Linked DNA regions of Homo sapiens: region 2 is linked to region 1. The links come from fine-mapping of genetic effects on gene expression. A gene starts in region 1. The other region holds a variant in brackets. All regions are shown on one strand. Distances are from middle to middle. Region 1 holds the start of ZNF880 (zinc finger protein 880). Region 2 holds the start of ZNF528-AS1 (ZNF528 antisense RNA 1).

Region 1 (15,219 bases):
AGGCATCATAGAAAACTATTAGATGGCCACTGAAAAACTGGTTGTTGGTGCGTAGAAATCCCCACCCATTCGGTTGACCAGAAGTGAAGCGCTCTCTGCTGAGTGGCATTTGAGAGTAGAAAAAACACTGGATTTTCCCTATCTCCACAAGACCTCAAGAGGCAAAGAGGGGTTGAGACGCCTTCATGCAATCTTTGAGCCCCACATGCAAAAAAAAAAGAGCAGCCAATGTTTTCCTATCTTCTGATGAGGTCTTCCTCATATAGGAAATTGTGTGGACCATACACAGGTCAAGGAGGCAGGTCTATGCAGACCCCAGGTTTGATGTATAAACTTAGCATCAGATAAAATCACTACAGAAACAGAGACCATGGGAAAAAGAGACCCCTTTGACACAGCCCTCCCTATGTCCTTCAGAATGATGGAATCAAAGAATTCTCATAAGCCATATGACAGGGTGTTGTCCATCATGATAAAGACTTTGCCTATGACACAGCAAAAGAAATAATCGGCAGAGTAAACAGACAACCCACAGCATGGGAGAAAATCTTTGCAAACTATGTATCTGACAAAGGACTAATATCCAGAATCTACAAGGAACTCAAACAAATCAGCAAGAAAAAAACAAACAATCCTATCAAAAAGTGGGCTAAGGGCCGGGCACAGTCTCTCACCCCTATAATCCCAGCATTTTGGGAGCCCAAGGCGGGTGGATCACCTGAGGTGAATAGTTTGAGACCATCCTGGCCAACATAATGAAACCCCGTCTCTACTAAAAATACAAAAATTAGCTGGGCTTGGCAGTGGGTACCTGTAATCCCAGCTACTCAGGAGGCTGAGGCAGGAGAATTGCTTGAACTCGGGAGGTGGAGGTTGCAGGGGGCCGAGATCATGCCATTGCACTCCAGCCTGGGCGACAGAGCAAGACGCTGTCTCAAAAAAAAAAAAAAAAAAGGGGGGGGGGGGGCGGTGCTAAGGACATGAATAGACAATTGTCAAAAGAAAATACAGAAATGGCCAACAAACATATGAAGAAAGACTCCACATCACTAATTATCAGAGAAATGCAAATTAAAACTATAATATAATACCCTCTTACTCCTGCAAGAATGGCCATAATCAAAAAATCAAAACATACTACATGTTGGTGTGGATGTGGTGAAAGGGACCACTTTACACTGCTGGTGGGAATGGAAACTAGTACAACCACTATGGAGAACAGCGGGGAGATTCCTTAAAGGACTAAAAGTAGATCTACCATTTGATCCAGCAAAACCACTCCTGGGTATCTACCCAGAGGAAAAGAAGTCATTATACAAAAGAGACACTTCCACACACGTTTATAGCAGCACAATTCACAAATGCAAAAATAGAGAACCAGCTCAAATGCCCATCAATCAACAAATGGATAAAGAAAATGTGGCATACTAATATGGAATGCTATTCAGCCATAAAATGGAACGAAATAATGGCATTTGCAGCAACCTGGATAGAATTGAAGGCCATTATTCTAAATGAACTAACTCACTTAGGCAGGCCAGGTGGGAAGAATAGTTGAGGCCAGGAGTTCAAGACAAGCCTGGGCAACCTAGTGAGACCTCATCTCCACAGAACATTTTTTAAAAATTAGCAAGATGCAATGGCACATGCCTACAGTCCCAGTGACTTGGCAGGCAGAGCAAGATGATCATATGAGCCCAAAGCCTGAGGGAAAACCAAACATTGTATGTTCTCACTCATAAGTGGGAGTTAAACTGGGAGGATGCAAAGGCGATACAATGGACTTTGGGGTCTTGGGGGAAAAGGTGGGAGGGGGGTGAGGGATAAAAGACTATATATTGAATGTAGCGTACAATGCTCGGGTGATGGGTGCACCAAAATCTCAGAAACCACCACTAAAGAACTTATCTACGTAACCAAATGCCACTTGTTCCCCAAAACCCTATTGAAATAATTATAATAATAACATTATGCCCGGGAGCAGTGGCTCATGTTTGTAATCCCAGCACTTTGGGAGGCCAAGGTGGGTGGATCACTTGAGGCCAGGAGTTCGAGACCAGCTTGGTCAACATGGTGAAACCCCGTTTCCACTAAAAATACAAAAAAAAAATTAGCCAGGCTTGGTGGTGCACGCCTGTAATCCCAGCTACTTGGGAGCCTGAAGCATGAGAATGGCTTGAAATTGAGAGGCAGAGGTTGCAGTAAGCCAGGATCGTGCCACTGCCCTCCAGCCTGGGCGACAGAGCAAGACTCTGTCTCAAAAAAATAAATTAATAAAAATAAATTAAAAATTAAAAAAAAAAAACCAATACTAGTTTGGGTAACACAGTGAGACTCCATCTCAAAAACAAACAAGCAAACAAACAAAACGCCAAAAACAAAGAACACAGCAGCAGTAAGAGGGGGCAAAGAAAAATTTCCCTTCTAGGCCAGGCATGGTGGGTCATGCCTGCAATCCAAGCACGTTGGCAGGCCAGGTGGGAAGAATAGTTGAGGCCAGGAGTTCAAGACAAGCCTGTGCAACCTAGTGAGACCTCATCTCCACAAAAGATTTTTTAAAAATTAGCAAGATGCAATGGCACATGCCTACAGTCCCAGTGACTTGGCAGGCAGAGGTGAGATGATCATATGAGCCCAAAGACTGAGGGTACACGGGCTACGATCACACCACCACTACACTCCAGCCTGGGCAACAGAGCAAGAACTTGTCTCAACAAAACAAGACAAAACAAACTTCAATCAGAACTCACAGGATTTAAACTTTTATTTTCCCAAAGAATTCTCTCACTTGCAGAGAGCTCCCAAACAGAAACTCAAAGTGTGGTTTTGCAGGGTACAGTGGCTCATGCTTGTAATCCCACCACTTTCGGAAGCAGAGGAAGGAGGATCACTTGAGACCAGGAGTTTGAGGCTATGAGTTAAGCCACGATTGCCACTGATGATTGCCACTCTACGACAGCCTGGGTGACAGAGCAAGACCCTGTTTAAAAAAAAAAAAAATTATGGGGCCTCCACTCTGGCCATCCAAGCTCTTACCTGCGTTCACACCTTTGATGCACTCCCTGCCACCTGGATTGTTTGCTATTTTCACTTCACTCTGCAGATTCCGGGGATCTCTCCTTTGCTCCAACATGGAGATAACACTCAGGTCAGGAAGACAGATTCCTATTTAAAAAAAGAAAGAATATCAAGACTATCCTGGCTAACACGGTGAAACCCCATCTCTACTAAAAAATACAAAAAAAAAAAAAATTAGCGGGGCGTGGTGGCGGGTGCCTGTAGTCCCAGATACTCAGCGTGAACCTGGGAGGCGAAGCTTGCAGTGAGCCAAGATCGCGCCACTGCACTCCAGCCTGGGCGACAGAGCGAGACTCTGTCTCAAAAAAATAATAATAATAAAAAGAAAGAATAAATGTGTACTGTGGCATCTCCAAAATGCAAGCCCCATGTCTAGGTAGGAGAGAGGATATTATAAATGAATCAAGAATAGTATTTCGCCAGGCACGGTGGCTCACGCCTATAATCTCAGCACTTTGGGAGGCCGAGGTGGGCGGATCACGAGGTCAGGAGTTCAAGACTAGCCTGACCAATATGGTGAAACCCCATCTCCACTAAAAATACAAAAATTAGCCAGGCGTGGTGGCACGTGCCTGTAGTCCCAGCTACTCGGGAGGCTGAGGCAGAATTGCTTGAAAACGGGAGGCGGAGGTTGCATTGAGCTGAGATCCTGCCACTGCACTCCAGCCTGGCAACACAGGGAGACTCTGTCTCAAAAAAAAAAAAAAAAAAAAAAATTACAGTATTTCACATGAATTCATCCACTGCCTCCTTCTGAATGCTGAGGGAACATTGTAACATGCAGACATCAAGCTCTCTTACAAGAACTAATAAATAATAAGCACAGGGGTGGATAACACAGAACTGTATATCTTAAGTCTGTCATAAGGTTTGACGCATACTTAAGCCCTGGTACCACTCAATGATGAATCTCAAAGGGGCCAGAATTCTGAAGAAAGCAATTATTTTAAGTCCAGAAAGTATTATGGAGCTTATTGTTTCTGAAAAATACAGCATTATAAAGCATTATGGAGGTTTTCATTTCTGAGTCAACAGGGTTTCAATCTCAGTCAAGCAATACAGTGACTCCTAAGATGCTAAGAGGCACACGACAAAATGCAAAAATACACCAGGGCAGATCTTGACTTCTGAAGGGACATTATCCTCACCCAGAAAGACCAGGTTCCTGTAGTTCTCCACCATCACTTCCCTGTATAAAGTCCTCTGAGCAGGGTCCAGACATTTCCACTCCTCCTGAGGGAATTCTATGGCCACGTCCCTGAATGCCAAGTGTCCCTAAAATGAAAAACACATTTCACCAACAGGATATCACACAAAATGAGGAGACAGTTGTAAGGACTGACTTGATTGAAGTGGATGTTCTGACAAATCCACGTTAAGGTATTTTTTTAGCTAGTTATATGTTTCTAATTGTGTTTTAATATACTTCTCCATTAGAAGTTATGACATTCTTTTTTTTTTTTTTTTTTTTTTTTTGAGACGGAGTCTCGCTCTGTCGCCCAAGCTGGAGTGCAGTGGCGCGATCCTGGCTCACTGCAACCTCCGCCTCCCAGGTTCACGCCATTCTCCTGCCTCAGCCTCCCGAGTAGCTGGGACTACAGGCGCCCGCCACCACGCCCAGCTAATTTTTTTTTTTTTTTGTATTGTTAGTAGAGATGCGGTTTCACCATGTTACACAGGATGGTCTCGATCTCCTGACTTCGTGATCCGCCCACCTCGGCCTCCCAAAGTGCTGGGATTACAGGCATGAGCCACTGCATGCCCAACCTGATATTCTTTAAATTAGTATAGATTTCTAGGCCGGGCGCGGTGGCTCACACCTGTAATCCCAGCACTTTGGGAGGCCAAGGCGGGTGGATCATGAGGTCACGAGATCGAGACCATCCTGGCTAACATGGTGAAGCCCTGTCTCTACTAAAAATACAAAAAAATTAGCCAGGCGTAGTGGCGGGCGCCTGTAGTCCCAGTTACTCGTGAGGCTGAGGCAGGAGAATGGCGTGAACCTGGGAGGCGGAGCTTGCAGTGAGCCGAGATGGTGCCACTGCACTCCAGCCTGGGCAACTGAGCGAGACTCTGTCTCCAAAAAAAAAAAAAATTAGTAGAGATTTCTAATTTTGTGGACAACATAAGAAATACAAAAAATTAACCCACAGTTATTTCTATAGAAGCGTCAGATACAATATATATAATTTTTTTTTAGATGGAGTCTCACTTTATTGCCCAGGCTGGAGTGCAGTGGCACAATCTTGGCTCACTGCAACATCCGCCTCCCAGGTTCAAGTGATTCTTCTGCCTCAGCCTCCCGAGTAGCTGGGACTACAGGCACCCACCACTGTGCCCAGCTAATTTTTCTATTTTTAGTAGAGACAGGTTTTCACTATGTTGGTCAGGCTGGTCTTGAACTCCTGACCTCAGCAATCCTCCCGCCTCGGCCTCCCAAAGTGCTGGGATTACAGGCGTAAGCTACCTCACCCAGCCAGGATGAAGCTTTTGAACACCTCCCATGTGACAGGCACTTTCTAAATGTTGTACATGTACTAACGGCTATAACAACAAAAGCCCATAAAAGAACAATCTGTTCCCATCCTATTGAAGAGACAACTCTTTCTCAGACATTCTAAGAAACTTGCCCCAGGTGTGAAGGCTAAAAATGGCAGAGTAAGCGCCAGATCCCAGGAGTCTGGGCATTAGAATCAAACTTTAAGAATTAGGCCAGGCGTGGTGGCTCATGCCTGCAATCCCAGCACTTTGGGAGGCCAAGGCAGGTGGATCATTTGAGGTCAGGAGTTGAAGACCAGCCTAGCAAACATGGTGAAACCCCATCTCTACCGAAAATAAAAAAATTAGCCAGGCGTACTGGTGGGCACCTGTAATCCCAGCTACTTGGGAGGCCGAGGCAGGACAATCACTTGAACCCGGGAGGCAGAGTTTGCAGTGACCTGAGATGGTGCCACTGCACTCCAGCCTGGGTGACAAAGCGAGACTCCAGCCTGGGTGACAAAGAGAGACTCCATCTCAGAAAAAGAAAAAAAAAAACATCAAACAATAACAGATCAGCATCAAAAGTAAATTGACAGACAATGACCTAACTGAGTATAGTTAAAATAAGTTCCGGGATTAAAATCAAGAAACTGTCGCACATGTATCCCCATAACAGGTTACTATCCTTACAGCCATAGACTCACTATCATAACAGTGTAGAACAATTTTAAGGTCATGAAAATATATAAGATGTAATTTCAACTGTTAAAAGATATAAGACGTATATAAACTGATGATGCGCCTTTGATAAAAACAATAGACTTGCTCATCTGTGCACTCATCCACACACATCACATGTACACACTTATTCATATACATATATACATTCACACACATATACTCTAGTAAACATATATGTGACAACTGAAAGAGTTGTCTGTCAATAACCTCTTTTTTAGATATTTGTCTTTGTTCGTTTTTTAATGTGTCCAGGTTGCAGTGCAGTGGCTTATTCATGGCACACTACAGCCTTGAATTCCTGGCCTCAAATGACACCCTCTCCGAGTAACTCGAATGACAAGCGTGCACCACTGTGCCTGGCTGTCGTTGTTTTTGCAAATGTGCATTTCAGCATGTTTGCAACAATAAAAATGTATAAACTGTGCTCAATTCAGTTTATAAACATTATTTCAAACTATTTCAAAAAGTCAGACCATGTAAAAACATAGAAACGAGAATTCCAATCTCTATTAAATACCCGTACTGAAACATATGTTTCAAAAATTGAGATGGGGGTCTCACTATGTTGTCCAGAGTGGTCTCAAACTCCTGTGCTCAAGGAATTCTCCAGCCTGGGCCTCCGGAGAAGATGGAATTCCAGCCCCGGCCCATAAATATTAGGTTGGTGCAAAAGTGATCGCGGTTTGCCATTACTTTTGCACTAACCTAATTTTGTCCACTAAATATTTATTTAGGTGTTAGCAAAAGCCCAATGGAGGCTGAAACATCACAATCAGCAGTAAACATCAGATCGATTTCCTCTCATTTAAGGCACAGAAAAGGGGGCAGGCCTGTGAAAAGAGGGCGAGGCTTGGGGGACCGGAAAGACGTGGATCCATCTCGCGGGTGAGAACTTTACGCAGCGCGGGCCGTGTCTAGGGGTCACTGAAGGATTTGAAGCAGGCAAACTCCGCGACAGGAGCTGTCTACATGGCCCTGTGGTGAAAGACCGGGGACAGGACCAGCCTCCGAGCGATTTTAACACTCAGGGAAGCGACCGCCAGACTCTCATTAGAACGTCTGAGTTTAGTCGGGGTGGAGGGAGCGATGCGGGGATTTCAAGGTCTGTGTGACCCCTGAGATGCCGGGTACAGAAGCGCGAGGGGACTCAGCATCCCAGATTTAATCTAAACAAAGGGAAACTCACACGCCGCAGCATGACCGTCACTCCACGTAATCTGCTTCCGGGTCTCCAGGAAACTGCGCGCGCAGCTGAGAGGCGAGGCGAGGCCAGGCCCGGGTGGGATTGGGCGGAGCCTGCGCTTCCCTCCGCCTCGCTCCCAGCTCGTCTCGTTTTGGAGGCTAGACCTGCCGTGGAGACTGGAAGAACTCAGCTATCTGGAAATAGATTGTGTCCCGGCAGAGGGAAAGTTTGTTGATGATTAGATCCAGGAAAATTCCTGCTATTAAAATTAATTTTAAATCGGCTGTAGGGGCGCTCGCATGTGGTCCTAGCTACCCGGATGCTGAGGTGGGAGGATCGCTTGAGCCCATGAGGTGGAGGCTGCAGTGAGCCGAGGTCGTGCGCTGCACTCCCGCCTGGGCATGAGAGAGAAACCTTGCGCCTAATAAATACATAATCATAAATAACAAATTGGAAATAAATAATTAAAATAAATAAATATAAATGAATAATAAACACTAGTTTCCGGAATTTTAAAGTCCTTGAATTGTTTATGAAGGGGATGCAAATTAAAATATGAAATGCAAAACCCTGCCAGGGCGGAATGTGCAATTTCCTTTTTTTTTTTTTTTTTTTTTTGGAGACAGAGTTTCGTTCTTTTGCCCAGGCTGGAGTGAAGTGGCGCGATCTCGGCTCACTGCAACCTCCGCCGCCTGGGTTCAAGCGATTCTCCTGCCTCAGTCTCCCGAGTAGCTGGGATTACAGGCGCCCACCACCACACCGGGCTACTTTTTTGTACTTTTAATAGAGACAGGGTTTCTCCATGTTGGCCAGGCTGGTCTTGAACTCCTGACCTCGTGATCCGCCTGCCTTGGCCTCCCAAAATGTTGGGATTACAGGCGTGAGCCACCGCACCCGGCCAAGTTTTTTTTTTTTTTTCATATTTATATTAATCCTAGTGTATACCTGCCATTGTCTTATGGACATACTCAGGTCACAACTTTTTTTTTTTTTTTTTTTTTTTTTTTGAGATGGTCTCCCTCTGTCTTTCAGGCTGAAGTGCAGACAGCTCACTGACTGCAGCCTCGACCTCCTGGCATCAAGTGATCCTCCCATCTCAGCCTCCCAAGTAGCTGGGACTACAGGCACACGCCACAATGCCCAGTCCCATGTCACAAAATTTTGTCTCCAAACAGCACTCATTTATTTGTCCCCTAAAGTTTTCACCAGAGCAAAACAGGGAAGAAATGTATTAAACATAGAATTTGGAGGCAATGTAGGAAAAAAATGTAAAAATATATATACATACAAAAAATATAAAAATATACATGCTAGGTGTGAATTGTAACTAAGTTTCCAGTATGGGTAGTGGGTATCCCCGCCCCAGCCCTACCCTTTAGCAATCATGACACCCCAAGCCAGTCACCTATCCCAGTTCTCTGAAGCCACTTTTGGACCAGCTGGAAAAGTATACCCTGCTTTCCCCCACAGAGCCTCATTATATAATAAACACTCTCAAACCATATCAGTGTATGGGATCATCATTCTCAAGATCCAAGCCAAACCTTAGGGGGACTTCAAACAAGTTCCAGAAGAGTGGTCAAAAATTCAAATTACCAAAAGAGTTGTGAGGGTGACTATATGAAGTTTCTAGTTAATGTACCAAAACAAAATTCCCTTTCTGTGTGTGACTTAAAAAGAAGATGGGTGAACATTAATATTTTCAAATGATGTCACTGAACACTAGAAGTACAAAAAGAAATTGTGTTACAGTATTATTATTATTTTTTTTTTTTTGAGACGGAGCCTTGCTCTGTCACCAGGCTGGAGTGCAGTGGGGTGATCTCAGCTCACTGCAACCTCTGCCTCTTGGGTTCAAGCGATTCTCCTGCCTCAGCCTCCCAAGTAGCTGGGATTACAGGTGCACACCACCAGGCCCAGCTAATTTTTTTTTTTTGTATTTTTAGTAGAGACAAGGTTTCACCATGTTGACCAGGATGGCCTCAATCTCCTGACCTCGTGATCCACCCAATGCAGCCTCCCAAAGTGCTGAGATTACAGGCGTGAGCCACCAGGCCCGGCCATGTTACAGTATTTTTGCCCTCAACCCATACTTTATTTCCTAATATTTGTCATATTACTATATATTTTTGCTGCATGAAAATGAAGGTGCACACCATAGTTCTTATTTGGCACACAAGAAAGAGGCATGTAGAAACACAATACAGGGCATACTCTTTAACACTCACACACATTTGAGGGTGTACAAGGCTGAAATTGTACTATTAAAGTGATTTTGACTTTACCCACATAAACATCCTACACCAGAGTACAGAGAAACTAACTCAAGTACTAAGTGTAATTACTCAACATCATACTTACTTAAGTATATTGCACCCAGAAGCGTATGTTGTTTTATGTCTCACACACATACACACACACACACTTTTCTGGCTGCTTCAACCTTAAAATCATAATGGGTTATTATTCTCTACTATAAAGTATCCTCCTGAGGTAAGATTAAACAACGCTGGTAGAAAGGATGTAATTCATTCACACTAAGAAAAATTTAAACTAGGCCGGGCGCTGTGGCTCACACCTATAATCCCAGCACTTTGGGAGGCCAAGGCCAGTGGATCACTTGAGGTCAGGAGTTTGAAACCGGCCTGGCCAACGGAGGGAAACCCCGTCTCGACTAAAAATACAAAAATTAGCCGGGCAGTAGTGGCACATGCCTGTAATCCCAGCTACTCAGGAGGCTGAGGCAGGAGAATTGCTTGAATCCGGGAGACGGAGGTTGCAGTGAGCCAAGATCATGCCACTGCACTCCAGCCTGGGTAATACAGCGAGACTTCGTCTCAAAAAAAAAAGAAAAAACTAAAAAAAAACTTTAAACTTTATTACTTAAAACATGAGAAGTATGTACATTCTAAATCAAAGAGTTACAAATTACGGTGCCAGCAGTTAAATGTGAATCCTACTCAAGAATATGCTATACTGGTAGTTTTCATTAAATGCTCTATTCTGATATAACTGTTCTCTCTTTATAGATTATTTATATATGTTATTAACTTTACATTTGTAGGGTTTCCTTTCAGTGTGGATCAAGAGATGAGTGATGAGGCTTCAATGCAAACTAAATTCTTTGCCACATTTATGATATTTGTAAGGTTTTTCTCCTGAGTCCTCCAATGTTGTGCTAGGTGTGAATTCTAACTAAAGATTTTGCCACATTCATTCCATCTGTAAGGTACGCAGTGAATTCTCTCCAGCATGAATTTTCCGATGTCGTGAAAGGTGTGGATTTTGATTGAAGACCTTGCCACATGCATTACACTTGTAAGGTCTCTCTCCAGTATGAATTCTCTGATGGTTGGTTAGGTATAATTTGCGCCCAAAGACTTTGTCACATTCATTACATTTGTAAGGTTTCTCTCCAGTATGGATTAGAAGATGGGCCATAAGGCCCGGACGCTTGTGAAATGCTCTTCCACATTCGTTACATTTGTAGGGCTTCTCTGTACTATGAATTATTTGATGCCGTGCAAGGTATGAAAGCAGACTAAAGACCTTGCCACATTCATTACATTTGTAAGGTTTTTCCGCCGTGTGACTTCTCTGATGATTGGTTAGAGAAAATTTGTGCCTGAAGTTCTTGCCACACTCATTACATTTGTAAGGTTTCTCTCCAGTATGGATTACAAGATGGGTAGTAAGTCCCGAACACTCTCTAAAAGCTTTGCCACATTCGTTACATTTGTGAGGCTTCTCTCCAGTATGAATTCTTTGATGTCGTGCAAGGTTTGAATTGCGATTAAACACCTTGTCACATTCACTACATTTGTAAGGCTTCTGTCCAGTATGAATTCTCCAATGTTCTACAAGGTGTGAATTGCGACTGAAGACCTTGCCACATTCAGTACATTTGTAAGGTTTCTCTGCAGTATGGATTACTTGATGGTTAGTAAGGCTTGCACGGACTCTAAAAACTTCACCATCTTCACTACATTCATATTCATAAGATTTTCCTCTAATGTATGCTTTCTCTTCTTGTGGGAGTAATGGGAAATCAATAAGATCATTTCTATATTTATTAAAAATGTGTGTTGTGAAACTAGAAGAAATTTTTTGAAGTGGTGAAACTGAGGAACGATGGTTTGTAAACTTTTCAACTTGATTACTTCTGTAAATTTTCCTTCCGGCTTGAAACAGCTGCAATTCAGACAGATGTGCCTCAAGGGTTAATCCAAGTTGATTTTTAATAGGCTTGTTTTCTGCATTGCTTCCCAATACACAGCTCCTCCCTAGAAAAGAAGAAAGAGTAGAACATGAACCCATGATTCTGGCATGTTTACCGTCTGGTGGAGGGACCAGAATCAGCCTCACCCAACTCAGACACTGGAAGAAGTATCGGCATACTTTGCATGTCACATTGTGAGAGCTGAAAACACAAGGGGGTGACGTGATGCATTGGAGCAGTGGGGAATCTGCAGGACTCGGGAGGATTATGAGTGACTTTGAGAAAGATTAAGGGCAGAAAAATAGAACAGAAACTGAAAGCTTCTCAGAAAAAGCAGGGATGAGCCTCTTAGAGAAAATAAGACATTTAAGAGCAGTTGTATAGACATTAGTAATAGTATAATATACGCATAAAGCTAGGAGAGACACAATCCCAGGAGTGAGGTGTTCCCACACCCTTTACAACAGGCTAATTGGGAAAGGTCTCCCTGTCACACCTGTCACAATTCTTTTTTTTTTTTTTTTGAGACGGAGTCTCTCTCTGTTGCCCCAGGCTGGAGTGCAGTGGCACCACCTCAGCTCACTGCAACCTCCGCAAGCAATTCCCCTGCATCAGCCTCCCAAGTAGCTGGAACTACAGGCGCACGCCACCACGTTCGTCTAATTTTTTTGTATTTTTAGTAGAGACGGGGTTTCACCACGTTGGCCAGACTGGTCTCAAACTCCCAACCTCAGGCAATCTGCCTGCCTTGGTCTCCCAAAGTGTTGAGATTACAGGCGTGAGCCACCGTGCCCAGCCTATCATTAAACATCTTAAAGCAAACTTGCAGGCTAGAAGGCAGTAAGATGATGATATGTTGAAAGTGCTTAAAGAAAAAAAAATACGGCTGGGTGCAGTGGCTCATACCTGTAATCCTACCACTTTGGGAGGCTGAGGTGGATTGATGACCTGAGGTCAGAAGTTCAAGACCAGCCTGGCCAACATGGTGAAACCTCATCTCTGCTAAAAACACAAAAATTAGCTGGCTGTGCTGGCACATGCCTGTAATCCCAGCTACTTGGAAGGCTGAGGCAGGAGAATCACTTGAACCTCACATGGGGGAAGGCGGGGCATGGAGGTTGCAGTGAGCCAAGATCGCGCCACAGCACTCTAGCCTGGGCGACAGAGCGAGACTCCTTCTCAAACAAACAAACAAAAAACCAAGAATACTATATTCAGCAAAACTTGCTTGCAAAAATAAAGGAGAAATTTACACGTTCCTGAATAAAGAAGAGCTGAGGAAGGTAATTAGTACCTTGGAACTGTCTGACAAGAAATGTTAAAGGGAATCCTTCAAAAGGAAATAAAAGGACCCCAGACAGTACTTCTAACCCAAATGAAAATATAAAGTTCTCCATTAAAGGTCAATAAATGATCAAATATGGAAACATAGTATCCTGAGAGTGACACTGTATGAGAAAAAAATTAAAAAAGAAAACAAAAAAATCATGCATTATTGTACTTTTCATTTGTAATTTGGCTTTTCTTTCCTAGCATTTCAAAGGCAAAATTATTTAAAAAGCACTAAAATGTGTTAATGGGAATATTACATATATAGAAGGAACTTCTAGCACAATAACAAATAGCACAGCTATAATGTAATGCTTTCGGTACCTAATCAAGGTTAAGCTGTTGACATTTTAAAATAATGTTTTATTGTTACAATGTTTTATGTAACTTCAATCTTAACCACAAGAGGAAAATCTACAAACATACACCAGAGGAGATGAGAAGGGGATCAAAGCATGTCACAATTAAAAAACCAACAAAATACAAAAGCAGGCAGTAAGGGAAAAATGAAGGACAAAAAAATCTACAAGATGTTACAAAATCTACAGCTAATATGTGACAAGATGGCACTATTAAGGCCTTCTCTATGAGTATGTGAAATACAAATGATTTCCCATTGGAATCAGAACAAAACAGGATCCAACTAAATCCTATCCACGACAGACTCCCTTTAACTCTAAAGACATAAATTGGCTGAAACTGAAAGGATGGAAAAGGATATTCCATGCAAATAGTAACCAGCAGAGCACAGAGGTGTCTATATTAAAATCAAAGAGAACAGACGTTTACTCAATAACCAGTATAAGAAAGAAAAGTTATTATACAATGATGAAGGGTTCAATTCACCAAGAAGATATAACAACTATAAATATATAGGCACCAAATATCACAGCCCCTAAGTATAGGATGGAAACATTCACAAAATTCAAAGGAGAAACAGATAGCTCCACGATATAGTAGTAGACTTCAATACTTCATTTTCAAAAATGGATAGAACAAGGTGACCAGGCAGGGTGGCTCACACCTGTAATCCCAGCACTTTGGGAGGCTGAGGCAGGAGGATCACTTGAGGCCAGGAGTTTGATACCAGCCTGGCCAACATGGCGAAACCCCCATCTCTACTAAAACTACAAAAATTAGCTGGATGCAGTGGTGCATTCTAGTAATCCTAGCTACTCAGGTGGCTGAGGCATAAGAATCGCTTGAACCTGGGAGGTGGAGGTTGCAGTGAGCTGAGATCACACCATTGCCCTCCAGCCTGGGTAGGCAACAGGGTGAGACTATGTCTCAAAAAAAAAAAAAAAAGGGGATAGAACCAAAGAGAAGGGGGTTCTGTCTCTCGGCTTTGGAGCCCCCCTCACTCTGTCTCTGTACAGGGGAGCTTCTTCTTTCTTTCTTCCCCCTTCTTTCTTGCCTATTAAACTCCCTGCTCCTTAAAACTAAAAAATAAAAATAAATAAATAAAAATCAAAGAGAAGAAGAAGAAAACAGGACTCAAACATCACTATAGCCTCATTAGATATGACAGACGTATACACAACACATCACCTAAAAACAGCAGAATACAAATTTTTCGGAAGTGCCCATGGAACAGTTTCCAGGATGGACTTCATGTTATGACACAAAACAATCTTTTAAACATTTAGAAGTCTACAAAGTATTGATTCCCATTATAATGTAATAAAACAAAATTAACAGAAAGAAATGTAAAACCCACAGATATGTCCAAATGAAACAACACATCTAAAAAACCAATAGGTCAAAAAAGAAACCACAAACTGATTTTTAAAATATCTTGATAGAAAAGGAAAGGAAAACAGAACACACCAGAACTTATAAAATGCAACAAAAATGTGTGCTTACATTAAAAATAAACAAATGGCCAGGCATGATGCCTCACATCTATAATCCCGGCACTTGGGAGTTTGAGGCATGAGGAGTACTTCAAGCCAGGAGTTGCAGACCAGCACAGGCAACAATACAAGACACCATCTCTACAAAATTTATGTATTTATTTATTTTTGAGATGGAGTCTCGCTCTGTCACCAGGCTGGAGTGCAGTGGTGCGATCTCGGCTCACTGCAACCTCCGCCTCCCAGGTTCAACTGATTCTCCTGCCTCAGCCGCCCCAGTGGCTGGGACTACAGGCGTGTGCCACCATGCCCAGCTAACTTTCGTATTTTTAGTA
Region 2 (15,219 bases), 24 kb before region 1:
TGATTCCTAAAATCATACTTTGATCAAGCACTTATTTTAAAAATACAAAACGCTCTCAGAAAAGGAAAGGGGGCTGTGTAGTTGCAGTAGAGGGAGCGGGAAGAACAGAGGCAGGAGATGAGGTCAGAGAGGTCCTGGGGAAGCAGATCAGGCAGGGCTGAGCTCTTCAAATATTTTCTCCTACACATCAAAAGAAATTTTGAAACAATCTATTTCCTCACTCATTTTAAGTAAATATGTCACTTATTCTGTACCTTAGAAATTAAAACACAAATAGTATCTCATATATTTTAAGCACATTCTGACAGGTTTAGTTAATCCCCAGAAAGTAGAAGGTGTCTGTCATCTGAGCTATGCAGGACTGTAGGGAGAACATGTCTGGGGGAGTTCAGGAAGCCTATTTTGGACACGTGGAGGTGGAGATGCCTGTGGATGTCCCAGCAGAGATGTCGAGAACATGACTGGACACAGGATTTTGGAATTCAGGGGAGAGGGGTGGGTGAAGAGGGAAAATGGAGACATGTTGGTGGTGTTTAAAACCATAGATGAGATCAAAAGGAAAAGCTGAGGGTGTGGGCAGACAGAACAGGTTTAAGGACTAAATTGGGTGACATTTCCATATTCAGAGAAGACACTTCAGGAGACAGCAGCAGAGGAAACTGATAAGATACGAAAGTAATGAGAAAAATTTTAAACAGATTTTTAAAAATACAAGCAATGTCTTCAAAGCTGCGAAAAAAAAGAGTGATCAGCTGTGAAACATGCTGCTGACAGAAAAAGACAGGAGGACAGAAAATTCAAAGTCAGATTTAAGCAGGGTAAAGGGCTCATGCCTCTAATCCCAGCATGCTGGGACTTCTTTGTAGGAGGATGGCTAGAAGTCAGGAGTTCAAGACCAGCCTGGGCAATGTAGTGAGACTTTGTCTCAAAAAAAAAAATTTTTTTTTCAATCAGCCACGCAGAGGGACAGGCCCATAGTCCTATCTACTCTGGAGGCTAAGACGGGAGGATTGCTGGAGTCTAGGGGTTTGAGGTTATGGTGAACTATGACTGTGCCACTGCATGCCAGCTTGGGTGACAGAGCAAGACCTTGTCTCTAAAAATTAAATGAATAAATAAATAACTAGATTTAGAAACAGAGAAGTCACTGGTGACTCAGATAAAAAAAGGAGCAGTGGAATGGTTGGTGTCAAAACCTGATTGGATGGGGTCAAGCAAGAAATGGAGGAAAGAGTGAGAGAGCGCCTAAACAAGATTTTGGTATATTGTGCTCTTACATGGAGCACAGAAAAGGCATACTTATTGCAAGTAAAAATGTAGCTAATACTTTGTTTTTTCTTCTGAGGATGAAATAGTGGAAAAAATAAAGGCGTGTGTGTGTGTGTGTGTGTGTGTGTGTGTGTGTGTGTTTTAATGGGCAACAACTCCATCTGGGTATGCTGACCAAAATAATTCCCTTGAAGTAAAATCTGATGACACTGTGGAGGAGGGATGCCGTGGCATCAGGAGAGAGTGAATGGGGCTGGCCTGTGGCACACAGTCTCAGCATCAGCAGCAGCCAGGAGCAGGGACAGACAATTCCCAGTCACTACTAAGAACACAGTCCTAGAGACAGGTGAGTGGGCCTGTTGGAAAATTCTTCCCCTTACTGTTTGAGACAGGAAAAAACCACACTGTTTTTACTACTCTCACACCCAAAGGAGAATCCCTCACCTTTAGTGATCAAAATGTGTCTGTGGTTGTTCCTACACTGACCAGTTAAACTGAGTAAAATTACAGAACACCCAGGTGCTGTCTGACGAAGAACTGCTTGTTGGTGACAAGTAATTCCCATATTACTTTGGTGACCAGAGATGAGGCATTCTGTGTTGAGCGCTCTTTATTGTGTTCACTGTGAACACAAAAACACACTGGTTTTTCCTAACTTATACACTCACACCCTAGTCCATCCCAAGAAAAGAGAAGAGTGCCTTATAAATAGTGTTCCAATTCTCATCTTCATGTGTGGTTTTTTGTTTTTTGTTTTTTGAGATGGAGTCTTGCTCTGTCACCTAACCTGGAGTGCAGTGACACGATCTCGGCTCACTGCAACCTCTGCCTCCCAGGATTAAGCGATTCTCCTGCCTCAGCCTCCAGAGTAGCTGGGATTACAGGCGCAGGCCATCAGGCCCAGCTAATTTTTGTATTTTTACTAGAGATGGGTTTCACATGTTGGCCAGGCTGGTCTCAACTCCTGACCTCAAGTGATCCGCTCACCTCAGCTTCCCAAAGTACTGGGATTACACGTGTGAGCCACAGCTCCTAGCCTCATGTGTTCTAAACAAATTTTATATTATAGAAAAATTAATATGTCACAATTCAATCATAATTTCCAATCAACTCACCACTCATCTGTAACCAGGGTCCCCCTCTTTCCTCACTACTGTTTCCCTGCCTCATTCTGTACATATCTCTCATTCTCATCTTTTTTCCTAGCTCTTTTTTTCTCTATTTTCCCCTAGGATTCTGTTCATTTTGAGTCCCTCCTCTTCTCTTTGTCCCATTCTTCCCTCTATTCCTTCTCTCCCACCTGTTCTGATCCATTTTTACAACTTGTTTCACCTCTTATTCCTCTTTCTGCCCAATCTTTCATTGTCCCTAATCTCCATATATTTCTGCCTCTTTCCTCCCACATCTCAGCTCCCCTTGGGGTCTCCCTGTTAAATTCCATCTTCGATATTACACACCCCTGTCCCCACTCTCTGGCACCCTTAGATCCCAGGCCTCCCCCTGCTGTGGTTCTCCCTGTTCTCCTTGTGACCAGCTGCCCCCTCTGGCTGTCCCAGCACCACGCTGCTCTGTCTGACCTGGCTCCAAATCCCTCCTCCTCTCCCCCCTCTGTCTGAGAAGCCTTCCCTATCTTGTTGAATTTCGTCTTTCTACAGACCCAGGTTTGTCTATATTTTTACAGTTACTTTTCTCCCCTGCTATTTTCTCGGCACCTTCTTTCACTGTGCCTCTGCAAACCCCTCACTCACCTTCTACTTTGCCTTCTGTTAATGGGTCTCTCATTCTTCATTTCTCTTTCAAAATTTCTCTATTTCCTCTGCCTCGTTCCCATCTCTTTTTCTCCACACATTCACAGGGAGGGGATTGGAATAAGATGCCCACTTCCGGAAGAGCTCATTTTCTGTGGGCTGGAAACTGGCTCGAGAGAACACTGGATGTCAGGAGACTGAAGTCACCCCCCACACTCGGGGTCAGGAGAACCGGTGGCTGGAAAAGGGAGGCCTGGGGAACAGAGGGTCCAGATTAAGGAGCAAAAAGGCAGGAGTGGGTCAGGAGAGGGGTGGAGTCTGCAGAAACCAGGTCTGGGCAGAGGACGAGGCCTCTCGTGCCCTGTTGGGGCGCTGAGCTCTAGGGGCAAAGAAGGGCGAGGCTAGGGGAACGGAGAGTGAGGATTTTACGTGGTGCGGGGCGTGTGTAGGGGTTACTAAAGGATTTGAAGCAGGTAAACCCCACGATAGGAGGTGTCTACGTGGGTAAATGACAAAAAGACCGGGCACACGACCAGCCTCCAAGCGATTTTAACACGCAGAAAGCGACTCCCAGACTCTCAAAGGATGTCTGAATTTACTCGGGGTGGAGGGAGCGGTGCCGGGATTTCAAGGTCTGCATGCCCCTCAGCTCCCGGGTATAGAAGCAGAGAAGAACTGGCTAGCCTAGACTTAACATAGACAAAGGGAAACTCACGCACTGCTGCGAAAACAGTTTCTCCCTGCAATCGGCTTCCGGGTCTACCGGAAACTGCGCTCTAGGCGTTCGCCCCCCGCGGTCCGCTTCCGGGTTTGCACGAAATTGCGCGCGCATCCTAGAGGCCGGACTGGCTGGGACCAGGGCGGGCCGGGACAAAGCCTGGGCCGGGCCTGCGCTTCCGTTCGCTTGACTGGCTGCGCTTGTTTTCAGGGTTTTGGTCTGAAAACGGATCTTACCTGCGCAGAGCAAAATCGGTTGTAGATTATATCCACGAAAATTCCTTCTATTAAAATGAATTTCAAGTCCCACCTACCCTGGAAGCAGAAAGAGAGAGAAGAGAGAGAGTAAAGAGAAAGAGAAAAGAAAGAGAAGTTGAAAAAGAGAAAGAAAACCAAGAAAGAAAGAGAAAAAAACCGAAAATAAATGGACAAGAAAGAAAAGTAAGGAGGGAAGGGAAGGGAGGAAGGGAAGGGAAGCTTTAGGAATTGAATTAACACACTTTGGAATTGTCTGTGAAGGGGATGATGCAAGCTAAAATGTGAAATGCAAAACCCTGCCAGGGTAGAATGTTCTATTTCATGCCAGTGCCCATAGAAGATAAATACTTTTCATTTATCTTCCCCATTCACTCTAGACGGTGAAGGTCAACCCTGTGCTCAATTCCAGAGACTTTCCTAGGGACATCGTGTTGGGCATGGAGGACTAAGGCCAGTGTGAAGATAAGTCACCGATTCTTTAAAAAAAAAAAGCCAGTAACTTATAAAAATAGCCATAAACGACGTAGTTTTTTGTTGTTGTTGTTGTTTTGAGACAGCGTCTCCCTCTGTCCCCCAGGCGGGAGTACAGTGGCAGGCACTCAGCTCACTGTAACCTCCGCCTCCTGGGTTCAAGTGATTCTCTTGCCCCAGCCTCCAGAGTAGCCACCACGCCCGGTCCAACTTAGTTTTTTAATACTTTTTAAAATTTTAAGACAGGGTCTCTGCCACCGAGGCTGAAATGCAGTGGCGCAATCATAGCTCACTGCAACCTTGACTTCCTGGGGTCCTGGGCAGGTGACCCCCTGTCTCAGCCTGCCGAGTAGCTGTGAGTAAAGGCCTGTGCCTCTCCACTGTGCTAATTTTCTACTGTTTGTTGCTTTGTTTTTAATAGAGATGTAGTCTGGTTTTGTTGCCCAGGCTGGTCTCCAGCTTCTAGCCTCAAGCAGTCTTCCCATCTGCTCCTACCAAAGTGCTCGGATTATAGGCATGAATCACCTTGCATGGGAGATAAGGACCCCCACATCAAGCCCTCAGGTTATTTTTGAAACACAAATACATAAGGCCCACAAGCAGGCCCATTGGCTGCAGACAGTGGGGTCACCTGAAGAACTTTTCTTTGATCTGAGTACCAACTTCTCACCTAGGTCACTGGGATCCTGGACTACGGCACTGCTCCAGGCAGGCCTGGTTATCCTGCTTGAGGCAGCAATCCTCTTGAGCCTAGTGAAATGCAACTGGCTGTACCTCAATGATGTTGCCCTGAGATTCTGCCAGTCGAGGTATTACTTCAATCTCCTGAGACCAGCCTCTACCTCCAGATCCAGGGAGGTCAGTGCACATGTAAATGGACTAGCTTTATTAAAGGGGATATCTGGGCCAGGCGTGGTGGCTCACGCCTGTAATCCCAATACTTTGGGAGGCCGAGGAGGGCAGATCACCTGAGGTCGGGAATTAGAGACCAGCCTGGTTAACATGGTGAAACGAAGTCTCTACTAAAAATACAAAAAAAAAAAAAAAAAAAATTAGCCAGGCATGGTGGCACACGCCTGTAGTCCCAGCTACTCGAGAGGCTGAGACACAAGAATTGCTTGAATCTGGGAGGTGGAGGTGCAGTAAGCCAAGATTGCGCCACTGCACTCCAGCCTGGGAGACAGAGCGAGACTCCGTCTCAAAAAATATAAAAATAAAAGGGATATCTGGATTGGCGGAGAGACTGCAGGACAGCATTCAAGTGGGGTTGAATTGGCCCAGTTGCATCTGACTTCTCACTTGTAGTTCCCAAGAATGAATATAGAATGTGCTGGAAAAGCAACATCCTGAGAGGAAGGGACCGGTGAGAAAAGGACAGGATGTGTTCCAGATCCCCAGAACAGGATCCCCTTTGTTGCTTTAGGCCAACGTGCCATGCATCCCTGGAGCATGAAACCCAGGATGGGCCGCCTTCCAGCCTCCCACAGCTGTGATGCAAGTTGAACACATACAGAGAGACTGCATCTGCACTGGGTGGTTTTCCTGAGCCTTGGGGAGCAGAATGCATGAATCCCAGGTATCTGCCGATCTGTATGTAACAAATTCACTTCATGTAACTTACTGTGTGTCCGTGAGATTATCTCTCACTCAACTCAGACACATTGGCAACCAGTGTGCAGTGAACCTGCTTCACAAGCAAGGATGTGGAGAAACTATTTTCGTACATTTTGTGGGAATCTGAAATACTGCGGTCAGTATGGAAAGCAGTATCATGGGAAACTTCCTCAACTCAAGATCACCTACCAATCCTTACAGAATCAGAATCATCATACAAACTGGTGAAAGCATAGTTTCCCCTAGAGGTTGGGATGAGGGCAAGAATGTCCCCTCTTATCACTACTATTCCACACAATATGAAAGGTTCCAGCCAGTGAAATAAAGGAAAAAGAAATAAAAGTGACAGGCTGGGTGTGGTGTCTGAGGCCTGTAATCACAGTGCTTTGGGAGGCTGAGGAAGGAGGGTGGCCTGAGGACAGGACAAAAAAAATAGTGTACCAACAGAAAATATGTTGGTTGTGCAGGCTAATACCTTTCCCAAAGGAAGGTAGCTACATCCCTATGACCTGTGTTACTGGATATATCAAAAGGGAGTTTGCAAATGTGGTCTAGATAAGGATCTTTAGATAGACATCCTGAATTATATGGTCAAAGTGATAGAATCACAAGGTTCAATATCAGAAGGGTGCAGGTGGATGCGAAGGGACAGAGACAGTGGTGATGTGTTGAAAATAGAGGGATAAAGAGATTTTTTTTCTCACCTTTAAAGATGGAGGAAGTGGACCATGAGTCAAAGGATGTAAGTGGCCTCTGGAACCTACAAAGGGTAAGGAAACAAATTCTCCCCTGGAGATTAATGAAGAATCACAGAACTATGGACCCATATTAGATATGTGACTTACAGAATTATAAAAGAATAAATTTTTCTTGTTTTAAGCCAATCACTGTGTATAGCAATAGGAAACTGATGAAATGATTTTATGTAGAAAATTCCAAAAAAATCTACAAAAATCTCTAGAACAAGAAAAATGTAAAGGTAGCAAAGTATAAGGTCAACCTACAAAAATATCGTATATTTCATCAGCCAGGCATGGTGGCTCGTGCCTGTAATCCCAGCACTTTGGGAGGCCAAGGCAGGCAGATCACTCAAGCTCAGGAGTTTGAGACCAGGCTGGGTAACATGGTGAAACCCCATCTCTACAAAACACAAAAATTTAACAGGCCATGGTGGCACATGCCTGCAGTGCCAGCTACTGGGGAAGCTGAGGTGGGAGGATGACTTAAGCCTGCAGGACACAGGTTGCAGTAGCTGAGATTGCTCCACTGCACTCCAGCCAGGATGACAGAGTAAGGCCCTGTCTCAAAATAATAATAATAATAATCTTGTATATTTCTATACACTAGCAATTTGCACATGAAACCTGATATTAAAAATAAAATACTATGTATGATTGCTCCATTAAGAAAAAGGTCAAAGAGGCCGGGTGCAGTGGCTTACACCTGTAATCCCAGCACTTTGGGAGGCCAAGGCAGGTGGACTACGAGGTCAGGAGATCGAGACTATCCTGGCTAACACGGTGAAACCCCATCTCTACTAAGAAAATACAAAAAAATTAGCCAGGTGTGGTGGCGGGTGCCTGTAGTCCCAGCTACTGGGGAGGCCGAGGCAGGAGAATGGCGTGAACTCAGGAGGCGGAGCTTGCAGTGAGCTGAGATCGCGCCACTGCACTCCAGCCTGGGCGACAGAGCAAGACTCCGTCTCAAAAAAAAAAAAAAAAAAAGGGGGGGGGCAAAGAAATACATGTGAAACAAAACATTCATAGAACTGTTATGTTACAACTACCAAATGCTGATAAAAGAAATCAAAGACAGCAAATAGAGACATATACCATATACATTTATTGGAAGACTCCATGTAAAGCAATATGAATTATACAAATCTGACACATAGGGTTAATACCTTTCCTAATTAAGGCATTCTGCAGATACTAACAAGGTTAGCAGTTATGTAGAAAGACAAAAAACCCAAACACCTAAAATAGCTAAAACATCTGACCAACAACAACAAAAGATTGGTATCACTTCATGTGATTTCAAGTCTTCTAATACAATAAAAGTATTTTTTCCCTTTCTCATATTTACAGTAAACCTAGTTTGTATTTGTCATTGTCTCGAAGCAAGAATCTGTCCCAGAAAAAAAAAAAAGAAAGAAAGAAAATTTCCATTCAAAACTAACAGGATTTAGGCCAGGCATGGTGGCTCACACCTGTAATCCCAGCCCTTTGGGAGGCTGAGGCGGGCAGATCAAATGAGGACAGCAGTTCGAGACCAGCCTGGCCAACTTGGTGAAACCCTCTCTCTACTAAAAATACAGAAATTAGCCAAGGATGGTGGCAGGCACCAGTAATCCCAGCTACTCAGGAGGCTGAGGCAGGAGACTAGCTTAAACCTGGGAGGCAGAGGTTGCAGTGAGCCGAGATTGCGCCACTGTACTCCAGCCTGGGCAACAGAGTGAGACTCTGTCTCAGAAAAGAAAAAAAAAAAAAAAACTAACAGGATTTATACTATTGGTTTTCCACAGAATTCTCCCAGTTGCAGAGTTTCCCAAACACTATTTATTAGTGTGGCTTTGCAGGGTGCAGTGGCTCACACCTGTAATCCCACCAGTTTGGGAGGCAGAGGAAGGAGGATGACTTGAGCCCAGGAGTTCCAGGCTGCAGTGAGCTATGATTGCCACTGCACTCCAACCTGGCTAACAGAGCAAGACCCTGTCTCTCAAAAAA[T/A]ATATATATATATACAGCTTCCACTCTGCCCATCTGAGCTCTTACCTGTGTTCACACCTTTGATCCATTCCCTCCCATCTGGATTTTTTTGCTATTTTCCCTTCACTCTCCAGAGTCCAGGGCTCTCTCCTTTGCTCCCACATAGAGATAATACTCAGGTCAGGAAGACAGATTCCTGTTTATAAAAAAAGAGAACCAAGGTGTACTGTGGCACCTTTAAAACTCAAGCCCTGGGCTGGGTGCAGTGGCCCAGGCCTGTAATCCCAGCACTTTGGGATGCCGAGGCAGGCAGATCACTTGAGGTCAGGAGTTCGAGACCAGCCTGGCCAACGTGGCAATATGCTGTCTCTACTAAAAATATAAAAATTAGCCAGGTTTGGTGGTGGACGCCTGTAATCCCAGCTCCCTGGGAGTCTGAGGCAGGAGAATCACTTGAACCCGGGAGGTGGCGGTTGCAATGAGCTGAGATAGCACCACTGCACTCTAGCCTGGGTGACAGAGCGAGGCTCCGTCAAAGTGAAAGAAAAGAAAGAGAGAGAGAAAGGGAGGAAGGAAAGAGAGAAAGAGAAAGAAAGTCAGTCCATGGTTTCCAAAACATACTTCTGTTTCCATTAATTTATTAGGAATGCTCTTCCATCTGGCTGTTGATCTGTGTCCTGTGTAACATCCTTTATAACAAATGGTACACCTCAGTAAATTGTTTCTCCAAGTTGTGTAAATCACTCTAGCAATAGCAAATTCTGGGGGCAGTTTTGTGCAACTGAGCCCTCAGCCTCCTGTGAGATCTAATGCTAACTCCCTATAAATGGTGTCAAATTGAGTTCAATTAGAGAACACCCAGTTTTTATCTGATGAAAAATAGCTTGTTGGTGGGAAGTAATCCCCACACATTTTGATGACCGGAGATGAGGCATTCTGTGTTGAGCATTCACTATTGTGTTGATTGTGAGTAGAAAAAACACTTTGGTTTTTCCTCCTATCTTATACACTCACACACCCTACCCCATCCCAGAAGTGAAGATAGTGACCCATACCTGAATGAGTCAAGTCACTGCCTGCCGTCTGGCAGAATAAGGACAGCAAATGGAAGCTAACCTCTGATACCAAGAATTAGGAAATGCACATGCCTTATAGACAGTTTTCCAATTCTCATCTTCATCTGTATATTTTAAACAAATGTGATGTTTATTATAGAGAAATTAATCATAATATCCAATCAATTCATCATTCATCTGGATTGAGTGTCCCCCTCTTTCCTCATTACTGTGTGTTTCTCTACCTACCTCTCATTCTCACCTTCTTTTCCTAGCTTTTTTTTTCTCTTTATTTTTCCCCTAGGATTCTCCTCATTTCAAGCCCTTCTTCCTTCTCCTGCTCTTCCCTCTATTCCTTCTCTTCCACTTGTTCTGCTCCTTTCTCACTTCTTTCACCTCTTATTCTTCTTTCTGCCCAATATTTGTCTCCAATTTTCATATAGTTCTGCCTCTTTCTTCCCCCCGTCTCTGCTGCCCCCTAGCTTCCCCTGTTAAATCCCCTCTTCCCTGCTATATCCACCTGTCCCCTCTCTGGCATCCCCAGATCCCAGTTCTCCCCAGGCTGTGGTTCTCCCTGTGCTCTCCTTATCACTGGCTGCCCCTCTTGCTCTCCCAGCACCATGCTGCTCTGTCTGCCCTGGCTCCAAATCCCTCCTTCTCTCCCCAACTCTCCATCTGAGGAGCCTCCCCTTTTCTGCCCCTCTCCCTATCTTGCTGAACTTTATCTCTCTAGAAACCCAGTTTTTCTCTAAATTTCTCTAGTTGCTTTTCTCCCCCTGCTCCTTTCTCAGCATCTTCATGCACTGTCTCTGCAAATCCCTCATCCACCATCTACTTTGCCATCTGTTTTGTTTTGTTTTTTGTTTTTTGAGATGGAGTTTTGCTCGTCGCCCAGGCTGGAGTGCAATGGTGCGATCTTGGCTCACCGCAACCTCCGCCTCCCGGGTAAAAGCGATTCTCCTGCCTCAGTCTCCAGAGTAGCTGGGATTACAGGCATTCGCCACCATGCCTGGCTAATTTTGTATTTTTTAGAGACAGGGTTTCTCCATGTTGGTCAGGCTGGTCTCAAAACTCCTGACCTCAGGTGATCTGCCCGCCTCAGCCTCCCAAAGTGCTGGAATTACAGGCGTGAGCCATCGCACCCAGCTGCCGTCTGTTTATGGGTCTCCTTCATTCTTCTTTCCCATTTCACCATTTTTCTATTTCCTCTCCTCCACACATTCATAGGGAGGGGACTGCAGTCAGATCCCCACCTCAAGAGCCCATTTCCTGTGGGATGGAATTTGGGACAAGAGAAACCTTAACGTCCTGAGATAGAAGTCACGTCCCCACACTCGATATCAGGAGAAGGGGAGGCCTGGGGAGCAGAAGGGCCCCCGATCAAGGAGGAAAAAGGCAGGAGAAAGTCAGGAGAGGGGCAGGGTCTGCAGGATCCCAGGACCAGGAAGAGTTCACGGCCTCCCTGGGACTGGGGCTGCGTCGCTGCGCTCCAGGAGCTGACGAGGGAGCGGAGCAGATGGGAAGCTCCCAGGGCGGGAATCAACCTTGCGGTGAGGACTTTAAAAAAGGTGCGGGCCAGTGCAGGGGACACTGAAGGATTTGAGGCAGGAAAACTCCGCGATAAGAGCTGTCTATATGGCCCTGTGGCAGAAGCACGGGGGACACGACCCCATGGAACTGTGTCCATTAAACCTCTTTGTCTTCATAAATTACCCAGTCTCGGGTATTTCTTTATTAGCAGCGTGAGAACAGACTAATACAGTAAATTGGTAATGGTATAGAGTGGGGTGCTGCTATAAGGATACCTCAAAATGTGGAAGCAAATTTTGAACTGGGTAACAGGCAAAGGCTGGAACAGTTTGGAGGGCTCAAAAGAAGACAGGAAGACGTGGGAAAGTTTGGAGCTTCCTAGAAAATGGTTGTTGAATGGTTCTGACCAAAAAGTCCAGGCTGAAGGTGGTCTCAGATGGAGATGAGGAACTTTATTGGAACTGGAGCAGAGGTGAGCTGCAGGGGCGGAGCCCTCATGGAGAACCTCTGCTAGAGCAGTGCAGAAGTAAAATGTGGGGTTGGAGCCCCCACACAGACTACTCACTACTCGCCTAGTGCAGCCGTGAGAAAAGGGCCACCCTCCTATAGACCCCAGAATGGTAGATTCACCGACAGCTTGCACCATGTGCCTGGAAAAGTAGCAGACACAACACCAGCCTGTGAAAGCAGCCAGGAGAGGAGCTGTACCCTGCAAAGTCACAGGGGCAGACATGGGTTCCCTGCAAGACCACTGGAACCAACCTCTTGCATAAGTGTGACCTGGATGTGAGACACGGAGTCAAAAGAGATCATTTTGGAGCTTTGACTGCCCTGCTGGATTTCAGACTGGCATGGGGCCTGTGACCTGTTTTGGCCAATTTCTCCCATTTGCAACGGGCGTTATTTATCCAATACCTGTGCCTCCATTGTACCTAGGAAATAACTAACTTGCTTTTTATTTTACAGGCTCATAAACAGAAGAGACTTGCTTGTCTCAGATGAAACTTTGGACTGTGGACTTTTGAGTTAATGCTGAAATAAGACTTTGGGGGACTGTTGGGGAGGCATGATTGGTTTTGAAATGTGAGGACATGAGATTTGGGAGGGACCAGGGGCAAAATGATATGGTTTGGCTGTGTCCCCACCAAATCTCATCTTGAATTGCAGCTCCCATGATCCCCACATGTGGGAGGGACCCGGGGGGAGGTAACTGAATCATGGGGGTGGGATTTTCCCATGCTGTTCTCATGATAGTGAATAAATCTCATGAGATCTTATGGTTTTATAAAGGGCAGTTTCCCTGCACGGGCTCTCTCTTGCCCGCCACCACGTAAGACATGTGTTTGCTCCTCCTTCACCTTCTGCCATGATTGTGAGGTCTCTCTAGCCGTGTGAAACTGTGAGTCCATTAAACTTCTTTTTCTTTATAAATTACCTAGTCTTGTGTATGTCTGTATTAGCAGCATGAGAACAGACTAATACAACATCCCAGGCTGCTCACCTATCCCTGTTCTCCAATTTGGACCAGCTGGGGAAGTCCATCCTGCTTTCCCCAGAAAGCCTCATGTAAATGTTTATGTAGTAAACATTTGCAGACCATATCAGTGTATGGCATCATCATTCTCAATATATAATACAAACTTTAGGTGGACTTCAAACAAATTCCAGTACAGCAGTCAAAAGTTCAAATTATCGGTCAAGCATGGTGGCTCACACCTGTAATCTCAGTACTTTGGGAGGCTGAGGCGGGTGGATCACGAGGTCAAGAGATCAAGACCATCCCGGCCAACATGGTGAAACCCTGTCTCTATTAAAAATACAAAAATTAGCTGGGCGTGGTGGTGCACGCTTGTAGTCCCAGGTACTCATGAGGCTGAGGCAGCCGTTTGAACCCGGGAGGCAGAGGTTGCCATGAGCCAAGATCGCGCCACTGCACTCCAGCCTGGTGACAGAGACTCTGCCTAAAAAAAAAAAAAAAAAAAAAAAAGTTCAAATTGCCAAAAATGTTGTAAGGGGAAGTATATGAAGTTTCTAGTTAATCTACAAAAGCAAAAAAAACTCCCATTCTATGTGACCATTCTTAAAATTTATGGGCCAGGCGCAGTGGCTCACACCTGTAATCCCCGCACTTTGGGAGTCCGAGGCGGGTGGATCACAAGGTCAGGAGTTTGAGACCAGCCTAGCCAATATGGTGAAACCTTGTCTCTACTAAAAATACAAAAATTAGCCGGGCGTGGTGGTGCGCGCCTGTAGTCACAGTTATTTGGGAGGCTGAAGCAGAAGAATTGCTTCAACCTGGGAGGTGGAGGTTGCAGTGAGCCGAGATCGTGCCACTGCACTCCAGACTCTGTCTCAAAAAAAAAAAAAAAAAGAAAATTTATGAACATTAATATTTTCCACTTACGTCACTGAGCACTACTAGGAAAAAAAAAAAAGACATGCACTACTAGGAAAAAAAAGACATTGTGGTACAGTATTTTCACTCTTATTAACATACTTTCTTTCATTTAATAGTATTTGTCGCCAGGCACAGTGGCTCACGCCTGTAATCCTAGCACTTTGGGAGGCCGAGGCAGGCAGATTGCCTGAGTTCAGGAGTTCGAGAACAGCCTGGGCAACATGGTGAAACCCCGTCTCTAATAAAATACAAAAAATTAGCTGGGCGTGGCAGCGTGCGCCTGTAGTCCCAGCTATTAGGGAAGCTGAAGCAGGAGAATTGCTTGAACCCGGGAGGCAGAGGTTGCAGTGAGCCGAGATTGTGCCACTGCACTCCAGCCTGGGTGACAGAGCAAGACACTGTCTCAAAAAAAAAAAAAAGTATTTGTCATATATTTGTATTTTTGCTTCATAAAAATTAAGGTGCATGCCATGAGTCTTCCTTGGCACACAATAGGCACGTAGAAATATAATGAACAGTGAATGTTTCATGGACTTTTGAGGGTGTAGGAGGCTGAAGTGGCACAGAAAGAATAACTCAAGTATTAAGTATGATTAGTGTAAATTATACTTACCCAAGGATATGCACCACAAGTGTGTGCATATGTTGATTTCACACACACAAAATTGTTCTGGATGCGTCAACCTTAATGGTGCATTTTTTAAAAATGCCTATTTTACACTAAAGTTAGAGTGATTAGACACATATCACTGCTACATAACTCAGTGTGAAGACAAAGAAAACCAAATTGCAGAGTATTTACTATTAATGTTGCATTACTGTGCAGTATATTCTCCTAAGGGGGACTAAAACAATTGGTAGAAATGATGTGATTCATTCATACTTAGGAAAATTTTATTAATTAAAACATGAGAACTATGTACATTCTAAATCAAACAGTTGGAAATTATGCCAACAGTTAAATGTAAATGCTACTCAAGAACATGGCATACTGGTAGTTTAAATTCTCTAATCAACTGTTCTCTCTTCCATTTCAAAAATGACCACTATTTTTTTTTTTTTTTTTTTTGAGACAGAGTTTTGCTCTTGTCACCCAGGCTGGAGTGCAATGGTGCGATCTTGGCTCACTGCAACCTCTGCCTCCCGGGTTCAAGCGATTCTCCTGCCTCAGCCTCCCGAGTAGCTGGGATTACAAGCATCTACCACCACGCTCAGCTAATTTTTGTATTTTTAGTAGAGATGGGGTTTGGAGATATTGACCAGGCTGGTCTCAAACTCCTGACCTCAAGTGATCCACCCACCTTGCCTCCCAAAGTGCTGGGATTACAGGTGTGAGCCACCGCGCCCAGCCAAAAATGACTACTTTTTAATCATTCTTGCCTAAACAGTGATTGCTATGCAGTCCTAGTGCCCACCATCTCCCTTGCATGATTTCTACAGATATGCTCTATTTC

Evidence for each region.
Region 2: its variant is fine-mapped to the expression of ZNF880 in caudate (GTEx, PIP above 0.99). The same link has a PIP of 0.9 or more in nucleus accumbens.

The regions. Positions count from the first base shown.
Region 1 is chr19:52,362,245-52,377,463 of GRCh38, reverse strand. ZNF880 (zinc finger protein 880) reads right to left here and starts at 7,541. Exons shown (of 4, transcript NM_001145434.2): 1 at 7,487-7,541; 2 at 4,227-4,353; 3 at 3,037-3,165. The coding sequence starts at 7,498. It overlaps ZNF610 (zinc finger protein 610), which reads right to left. Exons shown (of 6, transcript NM_001161425.2): 6 at 9,686-11,766. The coding sequence ends at 10,697. RefSeq lists enhancers at 7,100-7,239, 7,440-7,549, 7,560-7,859.
Region 2 is chr19:52,386,418-52,401,636 of GRCh38, reverse strand. ZNF528-AS1 (ZNF528 antisense RNA 1) reads left to right here and starts at 3,880. Exons shown (of 7, transcript NR_125345.1): 1 at 3,880-4,175; 2 at 4,370-4,442; 3 at 4,885-5,027; 4 at 5,138-5,272; 5 at 5,887-6,039; 6 at 6,790-6,846; 7 at 12,334-12,798. It overlaps ZNF528 (zinc finger protein 528), which reads right to left and starts at 3,788. Exons shown (of 7, transcript NM_032423.3): 1 at 3,733-3,788; 2 at 3,018-3,270. It also overlaps a transcript of ZNF880 not described here. RefSeq lists an enhancer at 3,277-4,476. The variant T/A (reference allele first, on the strand shown) is at 8,804.